2 separate regions of the Homo sapiens genome follow, and region 2 is linked to region 1. The links come from fine-mapping of genetic effects on gene expression. A gene starts in region 1. The other region holds a variant in brackets. All regions are shown on one strand. Distances are from middle to middle. Region 1 holds the start of EHBP1 (EH domain binding protein 1). Region 2 overlaps LOC105374764 (a long non-coding RNA gene).

Region 1 (4,388 bases):
CTTAAAAAAAAAAAAATTAGCCAGTCGTGGTAGCATGCGACTGTAGTCCCAGCTACTCGGGAGGTTGAGGTGGGAGGACTGCTTGAGCCTGGGAGGGTGAGGCTGCACTCCAGCCTGAGTGACAGAGAGAAACCCCGTCTCAAGAAAAAAAAAAGATTAATACTCGGTATTCAATAACTATCAGCAAAGCAGGCCAAAAGAGCTGAACATATTCTATATTTAATATTCTTCAATAAATTTAGTTAGTATACAGGTTGTTTTTTAAAATGTTATAGGGGGAAGAAGTAGCTGCTCTGTAGGGCCTCCAGGAGACAGCCTATGAACATGAGGTCAGTGGCAGAACAGGGTCAAGAGCTGTTCTTAATTCCTTCACTCATTTAGTAAACGATTCTAACTTTGATCTCTTCTTAGCTACCTTGGTGTCTAGAAGGAAAAATAAGAGTTTACATCCAAGACAAATATTTCCCCTAAAAAGAAGAGCTGTCATAAGAAACTATCAGTCTCTTGAAATTTTCCACAACTTGAGGAAGATTCCCTAGGGATCCTACTCCTTTATTTTTTTTTAAGACACCATTTAAAACTTATTACTTTTAAGGGAATTTCTTTACAATAAAGTCAGTCTCTCTATTTTTTCTCTCTTCCCCCTCTCCCTTTGGAGTAAGGGAAGCATGTTAAAAGAAACCAGAATGACCACATAAGAAAGTTTGAGAACTTCCAGAGAACAGTAATAAATAGGGTGCAAAAACCTTCTGATCATCATGTGGATTGTTTCTGAAGGGTAACTTGGATGAAAATAATTTATGACCATTTCTACAAATAAGCCATTAAAAAACTCCACACACTTAAAGCCTACTAAAGATGCAGAATATATTATTATATGAGATCATAATGGCTGTAGGTTGTAGTGACTTCGTAAACCACTCAGGAAGGACATCAGAGAACTCTTAATAGAAAATAAGAATCAATATGATTATTACGATTATCTTAACATTTTAGAATTGACTAGCAAAATAAGCGATAACTATGCTGTTTTCTGTAAAATGCACACTGTGCTCTTGTATTATTAGATCATTTTCTTTATTGAAAGTGGAAATTGAATTAGATACTGGATTCAAGCCTTATATCTGTCTCCCCATCTCTCTTGATTCTTCAACATGTCTCTCCACTTTGTCTTGGCCCCCAATGTCTACAGATGGACTCAATTCTCACCCATCACTGCTCTCTCTTCCTGTCCCTGAAAGAATCCTCCCTAGACCCTAACACCTTTCAAGCTACTTTGTCCATGCACCCTGCTTTCCAACCTTCGTAAGATTGAATGATCCTTGTTTCCAGAACCCATCCCGCTTGCTTTCTTTTTATGTTAGCTTGCCTCTCTTTTTTTTCCAAACTGTCTGCCCATAGCTTGCTGATGCGCCTACTTCTCTGATTATTCCTTCTCGGTCTCTTTCCCATTTTACTCTGTTTATTCCTTAGATGCTAGGATTCCCCTGAAGTTTCATTCTTTGTCCTCTTTCTCCACACCAGGGGTCTGTGAACCACCTAAAACTGAAAACAATTTTTTGTGTTTTGAGACAGAACACTTTTTCCCCCTTGAGAAAGTATCTGTAGCTTTCATATTCTCAAAAGGGCCCTTGGCTCTTTTAACAAGATTGAGTGTCCCTGCCCTCACTCTGCCTCCTCCTTTTTGCCTTTGACCACCCTTTTTATATGCTAGCTGTTCCCAAATCCATCTACAGTTCTCACTAGGGGCAAAAGAGTCCGACAGCGAAGAGGAAACCAAGATTCAAAGAAATGTTGAAGACTCCGAACAATAAGAAATTGTACTGTACACATTTTGTGTCTAGCTCAGCTGATTCAATCCCACTGAAGACCAGTTGACTCTATGTTGGGCGGGGAGCGGCCGGGGTGTCGGGGGGTGCCTGACAGGGTCATTACTTCAGGTTGTCAGGTAAGATCCCAGGAGGAACTGGTGAAATAAAGGCTATGCGCAAAAACCCTAGTTGCCAGTGGCGGAGGAGAGGGCGCGCCCAGGTCCTGGCGGAGATGAGAACAGGAGAGAAACCCACAGGCAGCTGCACTGCCCACAGCTGCAGCGAAGCCAATCTCTAGGTCTGCAATCACCCTTAGGGGCCAGAAACCCAGCCCCGCACCAGCGGCGCCTTTGACGGACAGCCACCTTCTGCAATCACCTTGCAGTTCACTATAAACACTCCCTATTCCTCCCGCCTATCGCTTCCCTCTCCAAGCCAATCAGAAGAACGGGCGGGATCGTCCTTAGTCGGTTCCTTCTTTTTTTTTTTAAAAAAAAGGTAGCCTGTGCGTCGCATTCCGGCTTCGGGGAAAAACCACCTCCCGAGCAAGGGCAAGGCGGAGCCCCTGTGATGGGCAGGCAGTTCTACCAATGAGGTGCCCCAGCCGCTGTAAGACCCGGCCGCCGAGGTGGGCGGGGCACGCGCGGGGCCTGGCCAATGGCGGCGGGGCGGTGGAGGTTGAGCTGCCGTGGGTAGGGTTAGTGTGAGAGGTGCGGCGGGGGAGGTAATGATGATGGTGGCGGAGGAGAAAGGCGGGGGAGGGGGTGCTGGGCGCTGAGCGGTGGCTCTGGCAGGGCTTGGTAGGGTGGGGGACGGTCGCGGGGCGATCTGTCAGGGAGGGGGTGGGCGTGAGGGGCGCCGTCCGCCTGAGGGGCTGCAGATCCCGGCTACCGCGAGCGCCGTGGCTGGCTTGGCTGTTCCATGTGGCTCCGGCGGGGATGGAGGACTCGGTGGCGGCGGCGGCTGCTGCTGCGGCGGCGACGGAGGAGCGGCTATGAGAAGGGAACGGGGCCAGACTCAGCCCGACAGCGGGATTAGAGGTGTGAGGAGGGGGCGGGAGTGGACGAGCGGCGGGGCCGGGGCTCGGGGTCCGGGCTGGGGTCTTCTGGTATCGCCTGGGTGACAGGGACCGCGGACGAGCCACCGCCTGTCTCCGCTGGGGGGCAGGGGTCTGGGCTCCGTGCGTGAGGAGACTGGGCTCCGGCGGACTGTTTCCCTGAGGATGGGGGAGGGAGGCACCGCACCCTGCACAGTCCACTTGCCCCGCTGGTCATTGCTTCACCCCCAGGCAGGAGTTTCCATTTCCCTCCGGTTGGCAGCGAAGGAGCCCAAGTGGCCTGGAGCCGGGACATTGCCCTCTCTCTGCCTGGAGATTTCCCTCCACTCCTCGTTCCCCATCCATTTCCTCCCTCCGACTGAAAAATAGCATTCCTCCTGGCTCCCTAATTTGTTCCAAGCACATATTGTCGGACTTGAGGCTATTAATTATCGACTGAAAAACAAAGTTTATTAAAAAATACTCCACTTCTCCCTCTTTCTGGCGGTGGACATTAAACAGCATCCCTAGACTTTCCCGCTCTGCTCGCCCTTCAGTGATGCTAACAGGGGGAGGTAGGGCCCCGAGTTACCGTCTCTCTGGATTGTTGTTGGTGCTGACTACCTGATGTGTCGCTCCACGTCTTCGGTGTGAATTGTAATTTCTTCCTTGGTGTCTTGCATCCTTGATGTTACTGGCTTTTGAGGTCAGTGTTTTGTTTCATTGTTTAAAAGACATGCAGAGAACTGGGATGGTCTTTTGCAGCGTTATTTAACATGGGTGGTTAGTCATTTCTCATGATTCTCTCCTCATATTCTTTCTCTTTTTGTCTTTGTTTTGCTTTTCAGCCCTCCAGAATACCCATCATATAGCCCCTGAGGTGGCATGGTGATGTCTCCATGAGGGAACCCCTTCCCACTCATCCTGTCACGTATATCATAGTGTTCTTGACTGGGCCATTCATCTAAGATGGGATTTACCCTGTGAAACAGGGAGAAGACTTATGGACCCCAAGCATCATTTCGAGTTGTAGTTGAGTTTTTAAAAGACATACATGCAAAGTTCCTTTGCTTTGGACCCTCTGCATTATTAAAGCTGCTGTATTGCTAACCCAGAACTGCTCCAGTGTCTTGACTGATCATCATGGCTTCAGTTTGGAAGAGACTGCAGCGTGTGGGAAAACATGCATCCAAGTTCCAGTTTGTGGCCTCCTACCAGGAGCTCATGGTTGAGTGTACGAAGAAATGGTAAGATGTACCTGGAGGTAGATTTTGCTGTGCTGTGGCCTAAGCATACTGTGGCCTAAACTCTGGGTCTTCTGATAGTATATTTACCTTTCTATAGTGCACTAGTGTGTAGAAGCTGGGTGGGGCGCAGATAACTCTAACAAGTACTGTGCTGTGCACTGTTGCTGCTAGTACCATCCCTGTGGATTTTAATTACTGCGCTTCAGTATGGCTCAGAGGACTGTAACTGTGAGAGCACACTAAATACAATAGATTTGGTTTTGAGGTTATTCATCATTAGTGTTAAAATAACTT
Region 2 (4,388 bases), 240 kb before region 1:
TCAGGTGGGCCTGGAATTTACCATCTCATTAGCTGTCCCGGTGATTCAGACTGAAAACCTCGGAAGCAGCCCCACACCTTCATTTTGCATCCAGTGAGTAAACCAGAGCCTGACAGGTGAAGATACTGCCTGTAATGGCCGAGCTGGGCTGAGAGCCCAGGATCACTGCTAATCCAGAGTTAGTCACTCCACTCAACACTGCTGCCCTGCTCTCTTTCCTCTGACTGTGCAGACCAAAGTCTAGGTCCTGGGCATTCGGCCCTGGCAGTCAGGCCAGTGGGCTGGCATTACTGTAGAAGAGGTGAATTCAGGAATTGGAAACTGAAGTCTGCAGCTGGCCCCTGGAGGCTGTTTCTCAGTGTTTTCAGCCTGTGGCTTCCTTGTGAACAATTCTCTCCTCCATCCAGTACCCCTCCGGTAGGCCTAGCTGTCACCCTTAGCCCTGGTCCCAGCCCGTGCCCCAGTCCTGCACTCAAGTGCATCTCCATAAACACCCACATCACACTCTCTGACCTCCCTTTGCCGCCATAGGGGTCTCAGGCCACCCCACCCTCCACTCCCTGCATCAAAAAGTAAGTAAAGATGAATGAGGAACATGTTTGAGCACAGGAAGAGCCCTGAAACCAGCACTGCAGGACCCAAGTTCCAGCCTTGTGTGACTTTGAACAAGTCACTGACCCTCTCTGGACTGTGCACTTGTCCCTTTGGCTTCCCATTCTGGCTTGGTCTACCCCACCCATAGGCCGCAGGGAAGACAGATGAGAAGAAAAATCCACCCCTCCCCACTGGGCTAAGGTGACCTCTGCTTTTGCTTACAATTTCATTCCCAGTACAGTGCTACCCCATGGAAGGTACTCAGTATTTGAATTATAGATAAATGTGAATTTAGAGACACAGAAACACTGGTAATCAGGGGAAGCACTTGAGCTGAAAAGGCCCCTCGAGGCTACATTTCCTACCAATGAGTTGCAGTGAACTCCTTCCCTGAATACTTTCAATAAACCCTACTTTGCACTTGAGGGTCTGATTATAATCAATAAAGCCCTAGAACGTGGTCTTGGCCTCCTCACCTGTAAAATGATAAACTAGATAAGATGGTCCCTCCTCCTTTCTCTACCTTTTCTCTGAAACTTTCTCCCACCCATTCCCACTCGTTATCCAGCTGGTATCTGCCCTCCTGAGCCCTCTGCCCCTCTGCAGAGGCCCTGCCCACATTTTTCCTCTGTCCGGACTTGGGTATGTCCCCACCTCTTTCCTTGTGACCTTGTGGGCTGGGAAAAAGGAAAGAAGCTGGATATTCTTTAGTTTCTACCTCCTCCTCTCAACACAGGTGGCCTTTTCAATCCTTCCAGCTACCAGTCAGTCCACAAGCACTTATGGGACACCAGACCTTGCCTGGAGCAGCCTTGGGGAATCAAATAGGAGCCAGTCCCTGCCCTCCAGAAACTGTGTGTCTGGGGGAGAAGATCACACACAGGAAAATCAAGTGGTGACAAGAGGTGCCATGAGACAGTATATAGTTCATTTCCCCACCGCAAGAGTAAAGGGCTTAGGGTCAGAGGCTTTGGTGCCTGAGTTCTGACTCTGCCAATTATTAGCATTGGGACCTCAGGTAAGTTACAGATCTGAGCTGTAGTATCTTGTCTATAAAGTGGGGAAAACAGGGACCCTCGTAAAATACAAAATCACCATTAGACCAACATTATAGTAATAACTACTGCAGGCAAGATCTGCTGGTGGATCTAAATTCAGTGGACAGGAGTTAGAGAAGAAATAGGCTATTCATAGTCTCAAAGTATCTCCCTCAGGGTGCTTACCAGTTATGAAAAGAAAAACAATAATTTTACTATGGAGAATCCTACCAGATACCACCTTAATCAAGTGATCAAGGTTGACACAACCTGTAGTAAGACAAATCAGCATGAGGTACCTGCTAGTGATAGGGACAGGAGGCAGAGAAATTCTAGGCAGAAAAGAGCGGGTCCCAGCGAAAACCCCACCCTCAAGCTGAAAAGCCTGAAACCATGGCCCAAAGTGAGAATTTCTATTCCTGTTTTCCCACTCAAATGTTG[C/T]GTTTTCCTAAATCACCCATGGCCCTGCCCCACCCCATCCTGTGCCTATAAAAACTCCAGACTCAGCTGGCAGAGAGGAGAAGCAGCGGGACATCAGGACTATGGCTGGACGTCAGAGAGAAGCAGCTTAACTTCAGAGGTGCAGCTTGATGGTGTAACTTAGGAGAAGAATCTGACTGGAGACGGCCAGACTTCAGAAGAAGATGACCTACCCCCCCATCCCCTTTTCAGCTTCCCTTCCCGCTGAGAGCCACTTTTATTGGCAATAAAATCCTCCACATTTACCACCTTTCAATGTGTTCATGTGACTTCATTATTCCTGGACACCGGACAAGAGCTCAGGGGCCACAGGTGTGGATATGAAAGGCTGCCACACTGGCCCTTTGCCCTCACTGGTGGAGGGCAGCTGCCCCATGCGACGAGGTAAAGGGCCCACTGAGCTGTTAAAACTTAAGCTGTCTGTGGACAGCAGAGCTAAAAGAGCACTGTAACACGCCCTGTGGGGCTTTTGGGGGTCACAGCCCCCATCTGGATGCTGCTGCAGGGCCCTCCTACTGGCACCAAAGCAGCCGGCAGTTCCAGCACTCGTGCACTCCAGTTCCCACCTCATTCACTTGTGTGCTACCTCCTGTGAGGAGTTGAGCGCAGCGGGCTGAGTAAACAAGGCACCCCTGTCACGAGTCCCACAGAGGGGTCAGGGAAGTATCCTGCTTCATCAGTATGACATACCGAGAAAGACAAAACTTCACTTCTGTGGTATTCTTGCCAAAAGTGCATAACCTCCATCTAACTGTAACTGCCCAATGGGTTCACCTTGCCTGCTGCCTAGACAGAGCCGATTTATCAAGACAGGGAAATTGCAACAGAGAAAGTGTAATTCACGTACAGCCGGCTGTGTGGGAGACTGGAGTTTTATTATTATTCAAATCCGTCTCCCGGAGCATTCAGGGATCGGAGTTTTTAAGGATAATTTGGTGGACAGGGGTCAGTGAGTCAGGAGTGTTAATTGGTTGGGCCAGAGATGAAATCATAGGGAGTTGAAGCTATCTTCTTGTGCTGAGTCAGTTCCTGAGTGGGGTAGATCAAGTGAGGCAGTTTATTGATCTGGGTGGTGCCAGCTGATCCATCAAGGGCAGGGTCTGCAAATATCTCAAGCGCTGATCTTGGGTTTTACAATAGATATGTTATCCCTATGAACAATTTGGGGAGGGTCAGAATCTTGTAGCCTCCAGCTGAATGACTCTTAAGCCATAATTTCTAATCTTTTGGCTAATTTGTTAGTCCTACAAGGGCAGTCTAGTCCCCAGGCAGGGAGGGGATTTGTTTTGGGAAAGGGCTGTTATGGGTCTTTGTTTCAGAGTTAAACTATAAACTAAGTTCCTCCCAAAGTCGGTGAGGCCTACAATTAGGAATGAACAAGGACAGCTTGGAAGTGAGAAGCAAGATGGAGTTGGTTAGGTCAGATCTCTTTCACCGCCTCAGTTATAATTTTGCAATGGCAGTTTCATAATCATGAGAAAAACATCAGAAATTTGTGGAGGTATGAGTTAATAGTATTGTACCAATATTAATTTCCTGGTGTTGATAATTGTGCTATATTTGTGTAAGATGTTAACATTAGGGGAATGGTACACAGAACTCTGTACTATTTTTCCAACTTTTCTGTAAGTCTAAAACTTCAAAATGAAAAGTTTCTTAAAAAGTGACTCAGCAACCGGGTACAGTAGCTCAGGCCTGTAATCCTAGCACTTTGGGAGGCTGAGACAGGAGGATCGCTTGAGCTCAGGATGGGCAGCATAGTGAGACCTTGTCTATATTAAAAAAAAAAAAGACTCAGCATTTTGTGAGGAGTAAAAGAGATGACACATATAAATAAGGTGCTTAGCACTGACACAGTAAGTGCTCAAGAAGTTTGTTTTAAAGCCCCATAAATGCTCAAGAAGTTTGACCCTCTATTATTTTTGTTATTTGACTTGAAAAATAGTAAGGGTGGCAGGTAAAGTAAAGGGCAATCCATTCAAAAACAGGAGGACTAGCAACAGCAGATACTTAGATGTGGAAAGGTACCCAGTACGTTTAGGTGGGTAGGGGGCGTAAGTTGACCAGACAGGCAAAAGCAGAAGTCTTTTAATTTTTTTAAAATAGGGAAATAATGGGACATGAGGCAGGAAAGGCCTCAAATGCCAAACTGGAGAGCCAGTTTTAGTTGGAGAAAGGCAGTAGGAAGTACCTTTGTTCAAAAGGGACAACAGAACTCAAGAAGTTCCTGCCTTTCAGAAAGGCCCAAATCAGGAGGGGTCCCCACTACCCTGCAGA

Evidence for each region. PIP is the estimated chance that this variant, and not a neighbour inherited with it, causes the effect.
Region 2: its variant is the best candidate, but not a certain one, in a credible set for the expression of EHBP1 in esophagus mucosa (GTEx, PIP 0.70).

Annotation. Positions count from the first base shown.
Region 1 is chr2:62,703,202-62,707,589 of GRCh38, forward strand. EHBP1 (EH domain binding protein 1) reads left to right here and starts at 2,512. Exons shown (of 23, transcript NM_001142616.3): 1 at 2,512-2,851; 2 at 3,696-4,094. The coding sequence starts at 3,991. RefSeq lists an enhancer at 2,219-2,358 and silencers at 2,389-2,648, 2,769-2,848.
Region 2 is chr2:62,461,707-62,466,094 of GRCh38, forward strand. LOC105374764 (a long non-coding RNA gene) reads left to right here. Exons shown (of 6, transcript XR_002959390.2): 5 at 1,331-1,612; 6 at 2,133-2,361. It also overlaps a transcript of TMEM17 not described here. Among named protein-coding and RNA genes, the nearest start is that of TMEM17, 42 kb to the right of the region's middle. The variant C/T (reference allele first, on the strand shown) is at 2,073.